3 linked regions of the Homo sapiens genome follow. The protein of the gene in region 1 interacts with the protein of each later gene in a pairwise test. Each region holds a gene or a part of one and is shown in the gene's direction. Other genes may lie near its edges.

Region 1 (8,545 bases):
CCCCTCCCCACCCCTGTTGCTTTGTGCCTCTCCTCCAGGCTGCCGCTGTTCCAGGCCAGTGCCTTTGCATTTCTGGTTCCAGCCAAAGCCATACTGGCTCTGGAGAGATGGAAATGCCCCCCGGAAGGTGGGTACACTTCTGGGGTCTGCACTGGGGAAAAGGGGAGGCCCAGAGACCTGGAGGTCTGAGCAACTGTCCCGGGTCAACACCAGGGTGCAGCCATGGCAGCATCTTCTCTCCCTCTCTGTCTCTGTACCTGGTCCGTGTGTGTATCCCTGACTCTACCCCCAGAGGAGATCTACGGTAACTGGAGTCTGCCCCTGAACACCTCTCATATTTGGCACCCACGGATACGGGAGGTGGGTTTGCATGTAAGCATAGAAGAGGCCGGGTCCTGAGGAGGGGCTATATGGGAGTGAGGGTGGCCGCTGAGTTTGGGGATTTGAGGAGGTGGTCCAGGAGCTTTGTTCCTGCTAGCAGCAGCCAGGTCATGACCTTTACATGGTGACTTACGGCTGATGTTTGCCCTTCCAGGTCCAGGGTGCAATCATGGTGTCCAGCGTGGTGGAGGTGGTGATTGGCCTGCTGGGGCTGCCTGGGGCCCTGCTCAACTACATTGGGCCTCTCACAGTCACCCCCACTGTCTCCCTCATTGGCCTTTCTGTCTTCCAAGCTGCTGGCGACCGAGCTGGCTCCCACTGGGGCATCTCAGCTTGGTGAGCAGGCACCAGGCCTGATCCCTGCCCAGCCCCAGCACCCTACCCTCTTCATGTCCTTGGTCCTTCTTCCCGGCTCCTGGCCCCAGCCTGGCCTCCCATCCACTTCCTGATTGTGCCTCTGCCCCCAGCTCCATTCTCCTGATCATCCTCTTCTCCCAGTACCTGCGCAACCTCACCTTCCTGCTGCCTGTCTACCGCTGGGGCAAGGGCCTCACTCTCCTCCGCATCCAGATCTTCAAAATGTTTCCTGTGAGGACCTGGCAGGCGGCTGGGGCTGGGACTATGGCCAGGGCTTGGGCTGAGGTGGGAGCAGGTTAGCCTGGACAGAGACCTCCAGTGCCTTCAGTGCCCCCTCACCCCCCTCCTTCAGATCATGCTGGCCATCATGACCGTGTGGCTGCTCTGCTATGTCCTGACCTTGACAGACGTGCTGCCCACAGACCCAAAAGCCTATGGCTTCCAGGCACGAACCGATGCCCGTGGTGACATCATGGCTATTGCACCCTGGATCCGCATCCCCTACCCCTGTGAGCAACACCCCTTGGGCCCCTCTGCCCCCAACTGAGACCACCTATGAGACAGACTCCTGGTGACCCCAATCCAGCAGGTGACACACCTAGCATTAGCCGCACATTTATAGTGCGCCCAGCAGAGTGGTGTTTTACTTAGACAAAGCTTCAGTCCCACTTCCTGGCTCTGAGTGACTCAAATAAGCTCCCACAACTGTATAGCTCCCATCCCAGCCTGAGGTCTCCTGATCTGCTCTTGCTCCTTCCAGCACTGCCCTGTCTATTCCTAACCATCACAGTCTCCTCACTGTAGCCACCATCCTGTCTCCCTCCGAGCACAGGTCAGTGGGGCCTGCCCACGGTGACTGCGGCTGCTGTCCTGGGAATGTTCAGCGCCACTCTGGCAGGCATCATTGAGTCCATCGGAGATTACTACGCCTGTGCCCGCCTGGCTGGTGCACCACCCCCTCCAGTACATGCTATCAACAGGTAGCCTACCTGCCCTCCTCAGTATCTGATCTCCTCAGGCGCCACCCAGGAAGCACACACAGGAACGGGGTGGAGGCCCAGGGGGTAGGCTTAGGCAAGTCGGGAACACGCTCCAGACCTCATTCTCCTTGTTTGTGCGATGGGGGTGCCCTCTCATCACCCCTCTGTCTTTGCTGGGAGTAGCTGAGAAGATGGTGGAGTCCAAAGGGAACCACCGTCATTGACAGCCCTCCATGTGCCCGGCTCTGACTGTGCATTCTTATGCAATCTTTGAAGCATTTTGTGAGACGGGCACCGGTATTTATCCCAGGAGGAAATTGAAGGCCAGAATTACCCACAGGAGTAAGTGCCAGGGCACTAGGACTAGCTCTGGAGCCTGAGCATTCTGGCCTGTAGTAGGGAGTGCTACAGCTGATAGCTGCAGCCCCCACAGCCCCAGAGGACGGCAGCTTGCTAAGATGATGGGGGAACACAGACTGGTGCAGAGGCTGGACCAAGCCCCGACTCTCCCTTTCCTTACAGGGGCATCTTCACCGAAGGCATTTGCTGCATCATCGCGGGGCTATTGGGCACGGGCAACGGGTCCACCTCGTCCAGTCCCAACATTGGCGTCCTGGGAATTACCAAGGTGTCGCGACGAGCCAGAGCCAAATCCTGCCCTAATTCCGTGGGCCGCAGGCCCCGCCCCAACTCGGTCCCCACTTTGGTTTAGCCCCACCCTGTCTTTGAGAGGCCTCGCCCCCGCATCAAGCCCCAGCCGGTTTATGCCTCGCTCTTATAACAGGCCCCGCCCCTGGAACTAACCCCGCCCCAGCCTCGTCCCCAGGTCTAGCTTCCCCGCTGGCTCCCCGGCAGGTGGGCAGCCGGCGCGTGGTGCAGTATGGTGCGGCTATCATGCTGGTCCTGGGCACCATCGGCAAGTTCACGGCCCTCTTCGCCTCGCTCCCTGACCCCATCCTGGGGGGCATGTTCTGCACTCTCTTTGGTGAGTGTCTGGCGCGGGCCACGGGTCGCGGTGCGGGTCGCCGAGTGGGACTCACCTGGATTACGCGTGTGCGGCGCCTCCAGCCGTTCTCTTGCGCCCTTAGGCATGATTACAGCTGTGGGGCTGTCCAACCTGCAATTTGTGGACATGAACTCCTCTCGCAACCTCTTCGTGCTGGGATTTTCCATGTTCTTCGGGCTCACGCTGCCCAATTACCTGGAGTCCAACCCTGGCGCCATCAATACAGGTGCCTCCAGCTGTTTACTGTCTCCAAAGGCGGGGTGGGCCCAAAATTTTGAGCACAGCCCCCTCCCTCAAAGGCTCCACACAGCTACAGCCACAAATCGTACCCAACTCTGGGTGTCAACCAGCAGCTGAGAGCTTGGGTCACAGCTGTCCTTTACTAAGACACTTCCTGTGGACAGATATTGACCTTTACATGTGCTTATTTAATTTTCAAAACAGCTCCATTTATCTACATTTATCATTTCTCCATTATCATTTCAACTTTACAGATGAGGAAGATGAGGCTCAGTGATTTGTCCCAGGTGAACAACTAGCAACTGGCAGAATTGGGACTTGAACCCAGAGATAGGAAAGACAGAGATAGGTTTGAGACAGGGCTTTGTACTGTTCCTTTGCCATAGCTGCACAAGAGGAAGTCCCTCAACTCTGCTCTCCAGATTGGGCCATGACACCCATTGGCCCTTGGCCTATTCCACAGGCATTCTTGAAGTGGATCAGATTCTGATTGTGCTGCTGACCACGGAGATGTTTGTGGGCGGGTGCCTTGCTTTCATACTTGACAACACAGTGCCAGGTATGGTTCGGTCCTGGGAGGGGAATGAAGAACTAGGCTGGACTCATGCACTCCAACAGATGGCCTCTGAGCTGGAGCTGTGTGGTTAGGTCCCATGCAATGCAGGCCCTGCAGGGAGCATCAGGAATAGATGGGCTGGTGGAGTGCTCACTGGCTGGAGGGAGAGAATGAGGCACAGACATGCCTCAGAGGTCTTGAAGAGGATGGGGCCGGAAGAGTCACTGCTGGGTCCTGTGAATCCTTTCCTCTCCACTTTTTCCATTTCTTTCCTTTTTTTTTTTCCGAGATGGAGTCTCGCCCTGTCACCCAGGCTGGAGTGCAGTGGTGCGATCTCAGCTCACTGCAACCTCCACTTCCCGGAGGGTTCAAGTGATTCTCCTGTCTCCTGAGTAGCTGGGACTACAGGTGGCTGCCACCACGCCCAGCTAATTTTCATATTTTTGGTAGAGATGGGGTTTCACCATATTGGGCAGGCTGGTCTTGAACTCCTGACCTCAAGTGATACGCTCGCCTCAACCTCCCAAAGTGCTGGATTACAGGCATGAGCCACTGCACCTGGCCTCCTCTCCATTTCTTAATAGCCACTGGGCTGAGGGATGTCTTTGCTTTCTTCAGAGTAGGACAGAGATAAATGCAGCATCAGTTTGTTGGCAAAATCCATCCACTCCAAATATGTCAGCAGCCTGCCACAATGGCGACTAGAAGAGCCACTAACATTTCCCTTTGGTACCAGAGCTTTTTGCAAAGATCGTGGAGGATACTTTGTGGGGCCCGCATAAAGATGCCAGTAAATATATAAAATAAATGTCACCAGGTGCTCTGATAACAAACAGTTAACATTTAGCAAACATATACTATGGGTAAGGCAGAGCTAAGTGTCTTACTTCATCCTCAAAAACCACAAAGTCATAAAGTCACAAAATTAAAACATCACGGCCGAGCATGGTGGCTCATGCCTGTAATCCCATCACTTTGGGAGGCTAAGGCGGGTGGATCACGAGGTCAGGAGTTTGAGACAAGCCTGGCCAACATGGTGAAACCCCATCTCTACTAAAAATGCAAAAATTAGCTGGGTGTGGTGGTGTGTGCCTGTAATCCCAGCTTCTCGGGAGGCTGAGGCAGGAGAATTGCTTGAACCTGGGAGGCGAAGGTTGCGGTGGGCCGAGATCGTGCCATTGCACTCCAGCCTGGGTGACAGGGTGAGACTCCATCTCAAAAAAAAAATTAAAACATCGCAAATCTGGGATGTATATTTTAATTGAGACAGGGTCTCAGACTATCACCCAGACTGGAGTGTAGTGGCACAATCATAGCTCACTACAGCCTCAAACTCCTGGGCTTATGTGACCCTCCTGCCTCAGCCTCCCAAATAATTGGGACTACCGGTGCACAGGTGCATGCCACCATGCCCGGCTAATTTTTGAATTTTTTGTAGAGACGGGGTCTTACTTTATTGCCAAGGTTGGTCTTGAACTCCTGGGCTCAAGTGATCCTCCCATCTCAGCCTCTCAAAGTACTGGGATTATAGGTGTGAGCCACCACACCTGTCCTCAATTTTTTTTTTTTGAGATGGAGTCTTGCTCTTGTCACCCAGGCTGGAGCACAATGGCGTGATCTCGGCTCACTGCCACCTCCGCCTCCTGAGCTCAACCGATTCTCTTGCCTCAGCCTCCCAAGTAGCTGGGATTACAGGTGTGCACCACCACACCCAGCTAATTTTTGTATTTTTAGTAGAGACAGGGTTTCACTATGTTGGCCAGGGTAGTCTCAAACTCCTGACCTCAGGTGATCCGCCCACCTTGGCCTCCCAAAGTGCTAGGATTACAGGCGTGAGCCACCACACCTAGCCTCTATTTTTAAATTAAGATGGGGGTCTATGTTGCCCAGGCTGGAGTGCAGTGGTTATTCACAGGTGTGATCATAGCATACTACAGCCTCAAACTCCTGGACTCAAGCAATCCTTCTGTCTCGGCCTCCTGAAGAGCTGAGAGTACAGGTGCATGCTATATACCATCTGGCTAAATCTGGGATTTTTAACAACATCCATCTGACGCAGTCAATGGCCTGTGTCCCATCCACTGCACCATACTGCCTCTGCTGGAGGGTTTCAGGGGACCTGGGCTGCAGGACTGGGGAAGGCTCCATGGAGATGGGAGTTAATGACTGCATCAGTATAGGGACATAAGGGATGGTAGTAGCAAGATGATGGGCCTCCATTTTGTCACTTACCAGCCTGATCACAGCCACAGGTCCTGTCTGCCTCCCTCTCTCTCAAGATCCAAGTGTTCATGTTCACATAACATAGGTGTCAGAGGCTGTCTCTGAACAGCTGGTGGGTTGGGGCTGGGGAGGACAGAGGAGGGCCAGGGTTCCCCGTAGGATTTTAGGCAGAATCAAAGGAAGGTGCTCTTGGTAGCAGCTGTCCCTTCGATGGATGGGTGGCTATTTGAACATGGTACCCCTGCCCATTTAGAGGATGCTAGACTGGGGGCTGGAACAGACCATCCTATGGGCCTGAGACAGTCAAGTGGCAGCCTCAATGCCTAGGGAATATGAGGAGATGGAGAGCATCTGGGTAGGCATCTGTACATGAAGAGGCTTCTTTGTGACTTGGGTGGCTAGTTTAAGCTATCCAGTCATCCTTAACAACAGCTGCAGAACTGCCTGAGTCCCTTATACCCCACATTTCAACCCACCTGAGCATCACAACTGTCCCTGCCAGGAATCATCCTGTGTGTCATGCCACATAAGCTCAGCAGTCTTCAGTATCCACTGAGGAACCTAAAGCTCAGGGGGGTTGTCACTTGCCTAAGGTCACACAACCTGGATTCAAACTAAGGTCTAGCTGGCTCAAAACCCTGTCCTTAACCATGGAATAGCAAAAGCCTTTTCCAGCCCTTAACTTCCTGCTGGGGATGGGCCATTTTGCATTTGTTTTTTTTGTTTGTTTGTTTGTTTTGTTTTTGAGACGGAGTCTCGCTCTGTCGCCCAGGCTGGAGTGCAGTGGCGCAATCTTGGCTGTGCCTCCCAGGTTCACACCATTCTCCTGCCTCAGCCTCCCGAGTAGCTGGGACTACCGGTGCCCGCCACCACGCCTGGCTAATTTTTTGTATTTTTAGTAGACACAGGGTGCTCTTTGTCTTTACCTATCCAGAGCCCAACCTTAGAGGGCAGTCCGTTTAGTTCAGCACATGCTGCTAGAGCTTACCAGCTTGGCCCTGAATCAGACACTGAGGAGGATATGCCAAAAAGTGTAAGTCAGTAACAATTTGTTTAGAGGAGCTCCTGGCACAAGATAGGTGGTAAAACTAGATTTAAGCAAGCAATGAAGTCAAGGAAGCCGGGCTGGAGTTATTGGGAGGGTTTACTGATGAGGGAGAGTAGGTGAGGCCTAGGAAAAAGGAGGGGGCTTGGAGAAGTACAGAAGGCACTGAAGGTTGGGATGTAGTGGGCAGGCTGACTGGTCTGCTAGAGGGAGCTCTGGGCTGGCTGCCATGTGTGTCTTGGCAGTGGTGCGAGGTAATCGGACACCAGAAACATAGTCCTACGCCACACCTATGGCTCATCCCACTCTACTGTGCCCACTGTGTGTGCCCTTTGTACAGCCAAGCCCAATCAAGGTTTCTCTTCCAGACTGTGTGTGCCCTTTGTAGAGCCAAGCCCAAACAGTGTCTCTTCCAGGTAGTCTTCCCTAGGGACTCCACCTTCCCTCAGTGCCCTCTCCTGTGAGATTTTGGAACATAACTTGGTTTGTGCTACTCATGGGTTTGTTCTCAGCCTGGGCTGCCAGCAAGTGGAAATTCCCACTCCTGCTAGATTTATAGTATTTCAGTCTTTGTCGATCCCAGCCCTCTTGTGAAAACCTGAGATCTCATGTGACCCTGCCCCACCTGAGGGAGAATTCCTAGTTGTAAAAATTACTAGCCCGGCTCAGTGGCTCACACCTATAATCCCAGAACTTTGCAAGGCCAAGGCGGGCTGATCACTTGAGGTCAGGAGTTCGACACCAGTGCCTGGCCAACATGGTGAAACCTCATCTCTATTAAAATTACAGTAATTAGCCGGGCGTGGTGGGTCACACCTGTAATCCCAGCTACTCGGGAGGCTGAGGCAGGAGAATCGCTTGCATCTGGGAGGCAGAGGTTGCAGTGAACCGAGATCAACCCACTGTACTCCATCCTGGGCAACAGAGCAAGACTCTGTCTCAAAAACAACAACAACAACAAAAAAAACACAACACAAAAAAACAAATTATTTGGTGTATCCCTACCTCCAAAGATTTTATTTAGCTTGACTTTCTGAAGTTTGTATTATAAAAATGAGTTTTTCACATATGGAATCATAATATGAAATATTAACACTGATTATAGTGTTTCAAAATATGCCTCCCTTACCCCCAGAACGCAATCTGGACTTGATTTGGTCCCCATGGGCCTAACACACATTACCACATACTCACAGATTTAGGTTCACAATTACTTAACTTTTTGTCCCTTTCTTCATCTTAAAATTTTGTATAGGCCGGGCACAGTGGCTCACGCTTATAATCCCAGCACTTTGGGAGGCCAAGCCAGGCAGATCACAAGGTCAGGAGTTCAAGACCAGCCTGACCAACATAGTGACACCCCGTCTCTACTAAAAATACAAAAATTAGCTGGGCATGGTGGTGCATGCCTGTAATCCCAGCTACTAAGGAGACTGAGGCAGGATAATCGCTTAAACCCGGGAGGAGGAGGTGGCAGTGAGCCGAGATCGTGCCAGTGCACTCCAGCCTGGGCAACAGAGCGAGACTGTCTCAAAAAAATAAATAAATAAAATAAAATAAAATAAAAATTTGTACAATGGTGTCTATACATCTCCCAGGGGTATGTTTTCAAGAAACAAGATAATGAAATTAAAGCACTTAGCACAGAGCCTGGCACACTGTAGTTACACAATAAATACTACTATAACTAGTATCCTTTAGTGTTCCTTAGAGCTCTGGCCAAGTTAGGAGCTCAGAAACCATAGATTCAGCCACGT
Region 2 (8,213 bases), on another chromosome or scaffold:
GATCAAACTCAGAACACTCACTCTCCTGGAAACCCACCGAGAACCTCCACCCTCTGACACCATGGTCAACTCCTGTTGTGGCTCTGTGTGCTCTGACCAGGGCTGTGGCCTGGAGAACTGCTGCCGCCCCAGCTGCTGCCAGACCACCTGCTGCAGGACCACCTGCTGCCGCCCCAGCTGCTGTGTGTCCAGCTGCTGCAGGCCCCAGTGCTGCCAGTCTGTGTGCTGTCAGCCCACCTGCTGCCGCCCCAGCTGCTGTCAGACCACCTGCTGTAGGACCACCTGCTGCCGCCCCAGCTGCTGTGTGTCCAGCTGCTGCAGACCCCAGTGCTGCCAGTCTGTGTGCTGCCAGCCCACCTGCTGCCGCCCCAGCTGCTGTCAGACCACCTGCTGCAGGACCACTTGCTGCCGCCCCAGCTGCTGTGTGTCCAGCTGCTGCAGACCCCAGTGCTGCCAGTCTGTGTGCTGCCAGCCCACCTGCTGCCGCCCCAGCTGCTGCATCTCCAGCAGCTGCTGCCCCTCTTGCTGTGAATCCAGCTGCTGCCGCCCCTGCTGCTGCCTGCGTCCAGTCTGTGGCCGAGTCTCCTGCCACACCACTTGCTATCGCCCAACCTGTGTCATCTCCACCTGCCCCCGCCCCTTGTGCTGTGCCTCCTCTTGCTGCTAAATCTCTGCTGTGAACACACCACTTCCTTATTACGTCCTTTCCTACAGATGAAGGCTCTCATTGCAAACATGCGGACTGTTCAAGAGAATTGATCTGGGTCCCATAAGCAAACCTCATCCTTAGAAATTCTGTATTTGCATTCTACCTTTTGTCCAAACTCCCTTCCTTCCAAAGGAATTCATTGACAATCTCCTAATAAATTGACAAATTGTCCTCCAACATCCTCCCACCTCTTTGACTTCAGGACATTTATTCATCATGCCTAAGGAATTTGAAGATTGCCTCCATCATTTGTAGGGCCACAGATCTTAAAGCCTCCAACCTTGAAGTCCAGTGAAGTCTCTCTCTTAAAGTCTTTTGCAAACATTTTTGTACCTTGTTATTTCCATGTACCAAAATAAACCTCTATTCTATTGGCACTGAAAATTGAATATGATTCTTATTCTCTTTTTAAAAAGGGTTTTATATTTAGGTCCTGGGTGATTACATTTAACTACACCTGTAGGGCTCACAGCACAGATTAGTCAACCTTCTAACAGAGGTCAACTGACATCGATCACTGCCTAGTTTTTTTCTAGAAAAGTCTTTTCAGGCTTAGGCAAATCAATTAGTCATTTTGTATTCTTTAGACAAAAAGAGTGAAGCTGAAGTCATGAAATATCCATGAATATAACAACAGGGGAAACGTTTTGAAAGATTGATCACAACTCATCATCTTTTAAAAAATAATTTCAACTTTTATTTTAGAATCAAAGAGTACATATTCGTATTTGTTACATGTTGTGTGATGCTGAGGTTTGGGCTACAAATGATTCTGTCACCAGGTACTGAGCAGTGGGTCATTTTTAGCCCTTCCTCTCTCCCTCTCTCCCCCCTTTTTGGAGTCCCCAATTGTTCTCATCTTTGTGTCCATGTGTATCCAATGTTTAGCTCCCATTTGTAAGTGACAACATGCAATATTTGGTTTTCTGTTCCTGGAAAAATTTGCTTAAGATAATGTCCTCCAGCCACATCCATGTTGCTGCAAAGGACAAAATTTCATTCTTTTTTATGGCTGTGTAGTATTCCATGGTGTGAAAATGTCACATGTTCTTTATCCAATGCACTGTTGATGGGCACCTAGACTGATTCCATGTCTTTACTATTGTGCACAGAGCTGTGATCTTTTAAAACACTGTATTTCAATTTCTTTTTTTTTCCAGTAAAAGCAGCTATTAGGTGGTTTAGCAAAGTCCATGTATTTTCTACTGAGTCATGTGTAATGAATCCTCAACACAAACACAGTGGATCTCCTTCATTCTGACTGGCAGAGTTTCAATGGGGAGTTCATGCTGCCATGTAGAGAGGGCCACCTTCACGGCCAGGCAGGTGATGGAAATGAAGGAAGCAGGCCTAGTGAAAACTCACAGGTATGCTGGAGACTGATTTTTTTTCTTTTCGTCCAAAGTCATGCCCTTTTTTTAGGATGAAACTATAAAGACCCACATTTCTCCCCAACTAGGGATGCCTCTAATGGGTCATCTCATCTCCAGAACTCCCTATAGGTTCATCTGAGACTTCCACGGAGATTGCCCTGCAGTTTGATTTATCCCAGTGTCAAACTTGATCTTTCTCTCACTTTCCCTTCCTTTCCCTTCCCTTCCCTTCCCTTCCCTTCCCTTCCCTTCCCTTCCCTTCCCTTCCCTTCCCTTTCCCTCCCCTTCCCCTTCCCTTTCCCTTTCCCCTCCCCTCCCTTTCCCCTCCCCTGCCCTCCCCAGTGTTAATCCCAAGAGCATGCTTCAATAAACCTCCTGCATATTGCTCTCCATCTCAGTGACTGCTTCCTGGGGAACCCAGCCTGTCCCCCAAAACAATTTGAAATTCATGATAGCTAATTTGAGAGCTCAAATGACTGACTGAAATGTACTTTTAATATTTTAGTTCCTGAAAGAAATAAGAATGTAAACATAATAGCAGAAAATATATTTAACAGAATATGTAGAAAAATTATGAATTTTATATAAATCACATTTATTATTTTCTAAGGATGTTTAGATCATTTATACACAAATATATGCTCTTTAAACATTTAGACAATACAAAAGAATGTGACAATGTGAACAAAAGTAAGTTTCCCATCATGATCTTTGCCAATCCCATTCAATACCTAATGTTGCAAATTGAGATACATCCTCATTAAATGCATGCATAAAACATGTATGTATTTATTTGAAAACTTGGCTTTCGTTGCACATCTCTTGTTCTGACATTTATTCAAACATTATTTTATGTCCTTCCGGAAATGTTAACATTTTCCTTCACAAAGGCTTGGCAGATTTATTTACATATTTTTCTATTTACTCTTGAGAACTGTGAGTACATGCTTCTTTTTTTTTTTATTATACTTTAAGTTCTAGGGTACATGTGCACAACGTGCAGGTTTGTTACATATGTATACATGTGCCATGTTGGTGTGCTGCACCCATTAACTCGTCATTTACATTAGGTATTTCTCCTAATGCTATCCCTCCTCCCTCCCCCCACCCCACGACAGGCCCCAGTGTGTGATTTTTCTCCATTAAATTTTAGAGAGAATTATTGCTAGTGTATAAAAAGTCTATGGATTAGTATAAGTTCATATTTTATCTGATCTCGCGATTCACACTAATACCCAGCTGACTCTACAGGATTTTACAGGTGTGCAATCATGGTGGCCAAGTGCCTCCAGCCTCAGGCTTGTCCCTGGGGTTCGTCCCCAGCTGCCCACAGTGGGGGCCTTACCATTAACACAAACACTGTTGGGATTTTCTACCTTTCCTGTCTTACTTTCACCGTTTCCTCACTTGTGCTTCCTGGGATCATCCCCCAAATAAATTATGTGCACTCAGGTCTTTTTCTCAAGGTTTGCATTGGGTAGAATTTAAGCTAAGACAACAGATTATCAGCAAACATTTTTGGCTGACTGATACGAAACAGGAAATAATAGTTATTTCAATCAACAAGAGTAAAACGAGGAAGTCAGGAGGTGAAGGAGAACCAGTGCTACCATCTGGCGTTTACTTCCTTCCTGTCTTTTTACTGTGTGAATATAGGCATGCACGTTCAACACTGTATTCTTGGTTATCTATAAACAAGTCTCATTCTATAAATTGAATCTTGACTTCCGCAGTTTCCACGTATGTTATTTATCGGGTGACATGTTACCTATCACACAAATGAGTTTAGTCTTCCTGAAATGAAATTATGATTTCTTTGTTTGGGATGTTTTCCTCCCTTTTATCCAGAAGTCAAAAGATATATACATTTTTTAAAGGACCTTACATGCCTCTATGTCATCAAAAAAACCTTCATTCACTCAACAAACATTTACCACCAGTGTTCTCTGTGCTGAGTATCATGGTAACGAGAATAAATGCCATAGCGCAAGCCTTCAGGGTATTTGCATTGCACGTGGTGGAAAGACAGAAGTAAATGACTATGATACAGGAGAATGTATAAATTATGAGCACAAGGCAGGAAATCATGATACATGAATGGGGTAGCTTAGCAGGAAAGATATTATTGAGGAGGAAATATTTTAACTGGGTCTTGACACATGAGTAGGAGTTTGCAGAGTGGACAAAAAAAGATGAAACATTCCAAGAAGATGAAGCAGTTTCAGCAAGCTTAGCAAATTGTATTCTTTACGGCTTTCTTGGCTACACTAAGACATATTAGGCTTACTTTCTCTTTAACCTTGGACAAGTTGTTTGTTTGTTTGTTTTAAGTTTTTAATGCTTCTTTTGAGTATTCCCCTAAAAGACTAATAAGAATATAAACTAGTTCATAAGGTTCTATTAAAGCGTGAAAATGAAACAAATGTAAGATATTTGGTACAATGCCTGCTACATAGTCAATACTTCACAAGTAATATACATACCATGAGGGTGTATGGAACTTATCCACATATTATACATTTCTTATTTTAGTTGTTTAATGAAAATAATTGTAATTCTTTTCATTTCTGCCAAACTGTTTCCTATCCATGTGTCTTATGCAAGTACCTGCAAGAAAAAGTTGAGGGTTTATCTGTTCTACACCCAGAGTACCCAATAGAACATCTTGGATGCATGTTATTGAAGGCTTAATAATTCTAAATATTCTTTATATATAACAAATGCTTTTGTAAATGAAAAATCCATCATGCAATTTTGATGATCAAAGATTAATCAGGCTGGGTGTTGGGGGCTCATGCCTGCAATCCCAACACTTTGGGAAGCCAAGGCAGGTGGATCACGGGGTCAAGAGATCGAGACCATCTTGGCCAACATGGTGAAACCCTGTCTCTACTAAAAATACAAAAGTAAGCTGGGTGTGATGGCGCAAACCACCTTACTCGGGAGGCTGAGGCAAAAGAATCGTTTGAACCCAGGAGGTGGAGGTTGCAGTGAGCAGAGATCATGCCACTGTACTCCAGCCTGGCGACAGATTGAGAATCTGTCAAAAAAAAAAAAAAAGATAAATCAAAACTTCCTACTCATAATGCATATACTGTAAGACATACAGCAAAATGTGTTTTTACCCTTTAAAGGCAGTGAGTCATGGGTAAGTACTTTCGCTGGAGGCTGTGGAATAAGATCTGACAGAGTTTAGAACTTCTTGGGATCTGACCATCTGCCCGACCATCCGAGATGCACACATGGGATCAGAGTCATCCTCATTACAGATGGGACATCCTTCCCCAAATGAGTGCTTCCTTCTAATTCCTTCCCAACATTTCACCTGACCAGGACATTCTTTGACAACAAAAGATACATTCACATTATAAAAATCATCCCCCATGATTTGCAGACAGCAATCTGCAGGTAGGAGGGAGAGTCACATTTAAAAACAAAATGTCAGAGAGTCCTGTGACCAGTGCTTTGTAAAAGACACTGCATAGACCAGGGACAAAGGTGACTCCCCACTAATGAAGAAATATGACATGCATTTCCAATGGAAACACAGGAGCACAGCAGGAAAAGGAAATGGGTTATTTTCTCTGTTTTGGAGTATTTAACTGGAAACACAATGATGTAATTACATGATTAATTTTTCCAGTAGGTAAATAATAACAAGGAAATAATGATGTGGTGGCAATGGGCCTTCAGGAGGGTATAAAGGGACTACAGGCCCAGGAGACTTCCAAACACAAGAACTTCACTCTCCTAGAAACCCAACTAGATCCTTCACCCTCTGACACCATGGTAAACTCCTGTTGTGGCTCCGTGTGCTCTCACCAAGGCTGTGGCCGAGACCTCTGCCAGGAGACCTGCTGCCGCCCCAGCTGCTGTGAGACCACCTGCTGCAGGACCACCTACTGTCGCCCCAGCTGCTGTGTGTCCAGCTGCTGCAGGCCCCAGTGCTGCCAGTCTGTGTGCTGCCAGCCCACCTGCTGCCGCCCCAGATGCTGCATCTCCAGCTGCTGTCGCCCCAGCTGCTGTGTGTCCAGCTGCTGCAAGCCCCAGTGCTGCCAGTCTATGTGCTGCCAGCCCACTTGCTGCCGCCCCAGATGCTGCATCTCCAGCTGCTGTCGCCCCAGCTGCTGTGTGTCCAGCTGCTGCAGACCCCAGTGCTGCCAGTCTGTGTGCTGCCAGCCCACCTGCTGCCACCCCAGCTGCAGCATCTCCAGCTGCTGCCGCCCCTCTTGCTGTGAATCCAGCTGCTGCCGCCCCTGCTGCTGCCTGCGTCCAGTCTGTGGCCGAGTCTCCTGCCACACCACTTGCTATCGCCCAACCTGTGTCATCTCCAGCTGCCCCCGCCCCTTGTGCTGTGCCTCCTCTTGCTGCTGAGCCCACTGCCCTGGCTCATCTCTCCCTTCACTGCAGGCCCACAGTTGTAGACCATTCTTCTGTGCTGACTATTAGGACACATGGAGTGGGATTGATGTCATTCAGCAGGGTGGACTTCATGTTTCCAATGAGCCCATCACCATCCCACTGACTCTGTGAGAACATTCTGGTTCATTTTAAACTCCCTCCCTTGCTTTCTTTCTCTTCCAGTCATGGCACCAAATATGAAATAATTTGTAATCCACTAGCTAAGAAATTATTCCAATCCTCTAAATTCCTCATTTTTTAAATCGTTTTGAGCCTACAGAATATCCTTCCCAGTGAGGTACACATTATCTCCATTTCAAACATATTATTTGTCTGTCAGCCTTTCAGTCATTCTTTTCTCTTGGAAAGGTAGGAGGCTGCCCCTCCCATGCTCTCCTGCTTTCTCCCTGTTCTCTCTTTGTCTCTGTTTGTTCAAGTTTGCCAGAATTTTTCTATTTTATTGGTTCTTTATCTTTATTGTGTTCACAAAATATATTGTATTAAACTTTTCATTTAGAAATCTTTTATTGTTTTTTGCATTTTTTTGTGATAATTTTCACTGAGTTTACTGATTCATGGGGGTGAGGTGGGAATGCAGTAGAAGGGGATTCTCAAAGCATGATTCCAAAGTAAGACTTCAGGGATGAACTCATAGTGCCAAACTGCTCCAATGTCACGCATAAACTAAAATAAAATAGAAGCTTTTGATTGTTTCAATTTGATATATGGAATGCTTTGGGATAGGTAAAGCCCCAGTATTGTTGTTTGTAAGTTCATCCATGATTTTAGAACTTATGATATCATGGTAATACTCCTCACTCTTCTGTGTCAAATTTAAAAGGCACATCTCATCCTACTGCATTCCATCTTGATTCAAATCAGTTAAGGCAGACTCCAAATGTTATATAAGGGAATTTTGTTATTTTGTTGTCGGTGGACCAGTTCAGGTTCTTGAATTTGCTGTGCAAAAGAATTTGAGAGCAAATCCAAAGTAAGAGTAAGCGAAGAAATTTGTTGCAAAGCAAAAGTACTCTTTGAGAGGCAGAGTGGGGTGCTCAGTGGGAGAGACAGCAGCTAGTGCTGTAAGAGGAATTCCTTTTATGGGAGCTATACGTACATAATCATAAAATACTGGTGAGGTCAAGTATGCAAAGGCAGACCTGCGGTTGGCACATGTGCTCAGGATCCACGTGGTCTAACACCCATCGCATGTATCATTAGCATATGAAATCTCCGCCTTGGGGTGTTTTTCTTGTTGTGGTTGTTTTTACTATTAAAATGAGGAAATGGTTACTATAAGCTGAACCTTGATCCTAGCTGTGCATGCAGGACCCCAGAGAAGTCCCTGCCCACCCTCCCAAACACCCCACCCCAGGAAGGAATTTGTAGTTAGGAGTTTCTTGGGCTTTTGGTGCAAATTGGCTAGAGATTGGGGAAGCTGCATCAGGAATAAAGGGCTTTTGCTCTCTTTCCCAGGTTGTACTAGGTATCAGGAACTTGTAACCCTCTGGTGGGTCTGCTTCGATTCTGTAGGACCCCTTATCTTGTGAAAGAGTTAGGCACTGATGCACAAAGGTTCAAGTGAAAAGAGCTTGCTGTGAAAGGATCCTGCTGGGCTTCACACAGGGGACAAGTCAGTATGGCCTTGTGAACCCCCAAAATCGGAGACAGGTCTCAGTTTATTTAGAAAGTTTATTTTGCCAAGGTTGGGGATGTACACCTGTGACACA
Region 3 (6,340 bases), on another chromosome or scaffold:
AGACATACTGTAAGTATACCTAAGACTTACTGCTTTAAAAGTCAGTGCCAAGTGAGTGGAAAAATTCATTCTGTAGGTTGTTCTGCCTCAAAGGTGGCCTGGGCGGAGGGATCTTCGGGGTACCCATGTCACCACTGTCATTCCCAGGGGCGACGTCGTAAACCAGGACGACCTGTACCAGGCCTTGGCCAGTGGTAAGATTGCAGCTGCTGGACTGGATGTGACGAGCCCAGAACCACTGCCTACAAACCACCCTCTCCTGACCCTGAAGAACTGTGGTAAGAACTGCACTTTCTGATGCAAACTCCCTGCTGCCCTGCAGGACCAGTGTTTTTGAGGGGGTCCCAAGGGGCCGGGTGTGGAGCTAGTGTGAGCAGGTGTTGAACCCAAAGGGACACACCAGGGATCGTAAATGTTTATGTTGTCAGTGACATGGGTGTATGACAGGAGCAGTCCTCTTGCGCATGCTCTGCTGGGTCTCTGTCCCTAAAGGAACAGAATGTAGGTGTGAGTGGATTTGTTTAAAAAAAAAGAGTGGGCCAGGCGTGGTGGCTCATGCCTGTAATCCCAGCACTTTGGGAGGCTGAGGTGGGTGGATCACGAGGTCAGGGGTTCGAGACCAACCTGGCCGATATGGTGAAACCCCATCTCTACTAAAAATACAAAAATTAGCCAGGTATGGTGGTGCATGCCTATAGTCCCAGCTGTTTGGGAGGCTGAGGCAGAAGAATCGCTTGAACCCAGGAGGCACAGGTTGCAGTAGGCCGAGATTGTGCCACTGCACTCCAGCCTGGGTGGCAGAGTGAGACTCCATCTCCAAAACAACAACAACAACAAAGTGGGCTGACTACATGTCTCCATGTGTTACACCACAGTGACTCGTGTAAAACCTGTTACTATAAATTGCTATTACCAGTTTAGCTGTGAAAAATTAAAAGTGTAATGACAATGCCAATATAACTCGTGCCAGTTTTTCAAGCTGTTGTTTCACAACAAAGCCCCCTTCTCTCTTCTGCTTTGTGGGGCTGGGGCCAGGCCTCTGCACACCCCATTTCTGCTGTGCCAGCTGCACTGGCAGGCCTTGTCAGCGTGGGTGTGGAAGGGCCTGCTCCCTCCTGCCCTCCCTTCCTGTCTTTGGGGGAGTGGCAGCAGCACTTCTTCATCTAGCAGCACCAGTTCCTTCCCATAGTGGCTGGGGAATCCAGTTTGCAGTTTTTCCAACACTTGGTGAACCAGCCCCATTGAGCCCTGCTCAGAGACAAGAGCAACAGCCAGTCAGTGCCCGTGCCACCGAAGTCTGAGTTGCAGCACCAGAAGTGCCTCTGGCAGTTGCTACCTCTGTGCTACCACAGTGCAGTGGTTCTCACATTTTTTTTTTTTTTTTTTTTTTTGAGACAGAGTCTCGCTCTGTCGCCCAGGCTGGAGTGCAGTGGTGCAATCTGAACTCACTGCAACCCCTGCCTCCTGGGTTCAAGCGATTCTCCTGCCTCAGCTTCCCGAGTAGCTGGGATTACAGGCGTGTACCACCAGGCCCAGCCAATTTTTGTATTTTTAGTAGAGATGGGGTTTGTCCATGTTGGCCAGGCTGGTCTCGAATTCCTGACCTCAGATGGTCCACCTGCCTCTGCCTCCCAAAGTGCTGGGATTACAGGCATGAGTGTCCGGCCAATTCTCATACTTTTGAGTTCGTCAGAATCACCTGGAGGAGTGACTGATCAAACACAGGTTGCTAGCCCCATCCCGAGAGTTTCTATTTCAGCAGGTCTGGGGTGGGGTCTGACAGAGTGTGCTCCTCACGGCTCCCAGATGCCACTGATGCTGCTGGTCCAGGGACCACACTTTGTGGTTTGGGTTTTTGTTACCTGCTCAGTGAGTTAACAACTTGATGCGTAGTTAATGATTCTTTATATTAAGATCTGTTCAGGTAGCTGGTGGAGTTTATGCCTCCAGACTAAGAGTGATCAGGGCCTTAGGTTGTCCGGGCCAGTCTCTGCCCTTAATTTGGATTCTGGAATGGAAACCTAAACAAAAGGTCTTCAGCTGCCTTCCCCAGTGAATGCTCCCATTATTGCAGCCCTTGGAAACTCTCCCGTCCCTCCCCCACCCCAGCCTGCAAGGAGCACTGGGTGTGATGTCAGGGCTGTCGCCCACAGCCAGGAAAACTGCCCTCCCACCCCCACCCTAGGTCCTGGAATTCAGCTCACGGCCTGGGGACTGCTTCAAAAGGCAGGTCTTGGTCTGAGGAGAGGGCAGTCAGGGCATGAAGCTGCAGCCGCCACCGCTGCTTCTACAAAATCTAAGCACTGGGCTGCAGCCATGTCCTACTGCCAGCAGGAAGGGAAGGATGCAATCATTTGTGATGTAAAAAGACCATGCAGCTCCAAGCAACACAGCTGATGACCCCAGTGATCCCTATGGGGGGAGCACGGATTGAGGCTGCCAAATGGAGACATTAACTGGAACTGCCTGTGCCTTGGGGGAAGGGCCAGCGGCCCCTGTGGGGAACAATTCAAGCTGGACTTTTCCTGCTTCCACTATAGTATGGAGAATGTCAAGGGGTCAGACTGTGTAGACCAATTGGGGCCATGCAGGAATGCATGCAGAAATACCCAGATCTTTGTCCCCAAGAAGGTGAGGCAGAGGTAGAGGAAAAGCCCGCAGAACATGTAGAAGTAGCAGCTCCCACTGAGGCCACTGCAACCAAAGAGGAGGAGGGGTCAAGTTAATGAAGGCCATAGGACTCCAGTCCTTCCACCCCTTCAGAGTGACACGGACCTTTTGCAAAATGCCATTTAGTCACCCTCCAACAAAGTGTCTTTCCCTCTGTTGTCCTGTAAACTGTAATGTACGAAATAACATATTTTGATGATCGGGGTCTTGGCCTCTTGACATATACGCTAAAAAAATGGGGGTTGTTTTATATGTGTCCTGTGTAAACCTGTCGGCAAATATAGCCACCACTTTTGAATTCTCCTAGATGGCCCTGAATTTTGCCACTTTGAAATAATGTGCTACTCAATCTCAGCAACCAAAAACCATTATCCAGGAATGTTTCTTGTGAGTGAGCGGATTTATTCTGATTCATTATATGTCTGAAACGTTGGGGTGGGGCTGATTAGGGTGGCTCACGCCTATAATCCCAGCACTTTAGGAGGCCAAGGCGGGAGGATCACCTAAGACCAAGAGTTCGAATCTAGCCTGGGCAACATAGTGAAACCCCATCCCTATAAAAAATAAAAAATTAGCCATGTGTAATGGTATGTACCTCTAGTCCTAGCTGCTCAGGAGGCTGAAGTGGGAGGATCACTTGAGCCTAGGAGGTTGAGGCTGTAGTAAGCTGACTATGCCATGGCACTCCAGCCTGGGCAACAAAGCAAGACCCTGTCTCAAAAACTCTTCTCTACTAGAAGAGGCCAAATAGTCAGATGCAAATTTCTCCAAACCTATCCTGACCTTGAGTATGTAAAGGGGTACTATACTTCATTCCTGACATATTTTGGTTTCCATGTTGGCATTCAGCTCCGGGTTTTCTATTTGGATGGTGAAAATTTGGACCCTGCCATTCACAGTCCCTTCCTAAGTGTAGGGAAAGGCTGGTTTTTGCTGTTCATTGTTATTCTGAAAGCTCTGGTTTGGGGTCCATGTTCATGCTGGCTCTCAGTTTGATCAGATGCAATGTTCTTGAGAGGAGGGGACCTAATTGTTACCAGAGAGGAGAAGAAACTCTGTGAATTAAGTACTGAATTATGGCTGGGCGCAGTGGCTCACACCTGTAATCGCAGCCCTTTGGGAGGCTAAGACAGGAGAATCACTTGAGGCCAGGAGTTCAAGACCAGCCTGGGCAACAAAGACCCTATTACAATAATGATAAAATTTAAAGAAGAAAATGTACTCAATTAAAAGGAAACATGATTTCTACCTGGAAAAAACCCAAAAGCAGTTTTATGGGGTTTATTTGGTAAAGATGATGTCTCGCTATGTGGTCCAGGCTGGCCTCGAACTCTTGGGCTCAAGCGAACCTTGCATCTCGGCATCTGGAGTAGGTGGGACTACAGGAATATGCCACTGCACCCAGCTGACGGTTCTTTGGGGGCAAGTAAGTTCACTTGCTCTGGGGTGGGATCAGAGATAACTGTGCTGTTCAGCATTTCATTTTGGAGTTATTTCTGTAGATCAGAAACCTTGTGGTCATGTGGCATCATTTTCAAGGGCACATGGTACAGGTGGCCAGTGCTAAACTCCTATGCGTTCACCATTTTTTTGTTTGAGACAGAGTCTCCCTCTGTCATCCAGGCTAGAGTGCAATGGTGCAATCTCAGCTTATTGCAACCTCTGCCTCCCAGGCCCAAACAATCCTTCTGCCTCAACCTCCCAAGTAGCGGGGACTATAGGTGTGGGCCACTACGCCTGGCTAAATTTTTGTATTTTTTGTAGAGACGGGGTTTTGCCATGTTGCCCAGGCTGGTCTCAAACTCCTCAGCTCAAGTTATCTGCCTGCCTTGGCCTCTCAAAGTGCTGGGATTACAGGCATGAGCCACTGCGCCCAGCCCTAGAATACAAATCTTTCATCACATTGTGACTGGGTTTTAGTAGCCTGGAGGCCCTTCACTCTGTTAGTCTGAACCTCAGCTCTGGGGGAGTGTCAAGCTTAGTGAAGGTGGGAGAGAAGGCAAAGCATGGAACCATGAGGTAGTCTCTCTTTATTCTTCTTACCGGCAAACCCAAGCCATGAAAACAGCCCAGCTGAAGGCTGCTGAACCACCCTTCTTATCTCCCTCTCTCTCTCTCTCTCCTTTCCAGTGATTCTGCCCCACATTGGCAGTGCCACCCACAGAACCCGCAACACCATGTCCTTGTTGGCAGCTAACAACTTGCTGGCTGGCCTGAGAGGGGAGCCGATGCCTAGTGAACTCAAGCTGTAGCCAAACAGTAGAGATGGAGGGCCGGGAAGCAAACCGTGCCCTGGTATTGTCAGACACACCCAGGCTTGATTTGGATCCACAGGCAGAGCCAAGGGAAGGTGTGATTCTCTGAGGAAAGAGTGATTCTGATATATGTACTTGTCACATTGGTGTTGGACACATTTGCGCCAAAAGTATGGTAATTCTATTATTAAATAATTCTCTGAGAGACCGTCTTGGCCTGTAAATGGGGAAGCTAACAAGTGGATATGGCTGGGCATGGTGACGCACCCCTATAGTCCCAGCAACTCAGGAGGCTGAGCGGGAAGGATCCTTTGAGGCCAGTTCAAGGCTGCAGTGTGCTATAACCACTCTTTTTAAATCGCCACTACACTTAACCTGGGCAATGTAGCAAGATACCGTTTCCTGCAGTGTGCTATGATCACTCTTTAAATCACCACTACACTTAACCTGGGCAATGTAGCAAGACACCGTTTCAAAAAAAACTTTAAAAATACAAAGAGCATGTTTCAAAGTCACAGCATCCAATGATCTGCCTGGCTCTGCTTCCCACCCCAGCCCTCAGCCCTGGGCATTTTCCTTATTGGAACGTGTCCAAACCACCTTACCCCTCATCTTCTCTGCCCAGATTCCTTCACTTGTCCCTCACCAAGGACGGGACAAACAGAACCCAGTTGTGACCATGGCACTTGAATCTTGATACCTAGACCATCAGGAAAATTAAGGAGCACTTCCAGAAAAGGAGTTAACTGGAAGAAATGAGAACTAGGTAAGGACGTAACTCTTATTTTGGTCAGAACGATTAGAGGTAGGTGGGTTTAATTTTAAAATTAGTTTCAGCACCTACACATATTGTTCCCTTTGCCCATTCTGTCCCCCCAGCCCCTCCCTGCCCCCAGGTGGATTTTTTTTTTTTTTAATCACCACCTTACCCACTTCTCTCCAAGGTCAGGCCACAGCACTGCCATTGCCAATGCCTTGCTCTGTGCTCAAGGAATCAGCTTCCAGCTCTTCCCAGCAGCCAAGCCAAACTGGCAGATGGAGTTTCCAACTTGGGAGGCAGGTCCAGGGAGCAGCACAAGATTACGCAGGCCCTCAGAGAGCAACTGGGTAGACTGAAAAGCAAAATCTCATGCATGTGCGTAGCTCAAAGACAGAAAAGGCGGGGGAAGGCAGAAGGGAATGATTTGAGAGGAACGACCAATTAACTGTTAATAGAAGGTTTGGTTTAAAACAAAGTACTAGTCAAAGAAGGGCTGGCAAAGAGATATTACCCTCTTTGGTTTCAACCTTAATAACGTAAAGAAAAAGAACACATATTTAGAGGCATGAATATGACAAATTTTTTATTTCAAAAATCTCAAGTTGTAACCAGCATAGCACCACTGACATGGATGCCTTGATAGAACTCCTTGATA

The links.
Region 2: the proteins of SLC23A1 (region 1) and KRTAP4-11 interact in binary tests that used the Homo sapiens proteins (3 or more experiments, as listed by UniProt).
Region 3: the proteins of SLC23A1 (region 1) and GRHPR interact in a two-hybrid assay, tested with the Homo sapiens proteins (one study listed by IntAct).

Annotation. Positions count from the first base shown.
Region 1 is NC_000005.10:139,372,380-139,380,924, reverse strand, and holds part of SLC23A1 (solute carrier family 23 member 1), read left to right. Parts: intron 1-38; coding exon 39-127; intron 128-292; coding exon 293-360; coding exon of another isoform or gene 361-372; intron 373-535; coding exon 536-717; intron 718-848; coding exon 849-969; intron 970-1,090; coding exon 1,091-1,247; intron 1,248-1,570; coding exon 1,571-1,718; intron 1,719-2,240; coding exon 2,241-2,346; intron 2,347-2,573; coding exon 2,574-2,703; intron 2,704-2,806; coding exon 2,807-2,950; intron 2,951-3,427; coding exon 3,428-3,523; intron 3,524-8,545.
Region 2 is NC_000017.11:41,115,971-41,124,183, reverse strand, and holds KRTAP4-11 (keratin-associated protein 4-11), read left to right. Parts: upstream 1-5,810; 5' UTR 5,811-5,868; coding exon 5,869-6,456; 3' UTR 6,457-7,003; downstream 7,004-8,213. Other genes in the region: KRTAP4-12 (keratin-associated protein 4-12), read left to right, coding at 62-667. UniProt on the Homo sapiens protein: In the hair cortex, hair keratin intermediate filaments are embedded in an interfilamentous matrix, consisting of hair keratin-associated proteins (KRTAP), which are essential for the formation of a rigid and resistant hair shaft through their extensive disulfide bond cross-linking with abundant cysteine residues of hair keratins.
Region 3 is NC_000009.12:37,431,861-37,438,200, forward strand, and holds the end of GRHPR (glyoxylate reductase/hydroxypyruvate reductase), read left to right. Parts: intron 1-147; coding exon 148-278; intron 279-2,240; exon of another isoform or gene 2,241-2,926; intron 2,927-2,977; coding exon of another isoform or gene 2,978-3,057; intron 3,058-4,800; coding exon 4,801-4,922; 3' UTR 4,923-5,130; downstream 5,131-6,340. UniProt on the Homo sapiens protein: Enzyme with hydroxy-pyruvate reductase, glyoxylate reductase and D-glycerate dehydrogenase enzymatic activities. Reduces hydroxypyruvate to D-glycerate, glyoxylate to glycolate, oxidizes D-glycerate to hydroxypyruvate.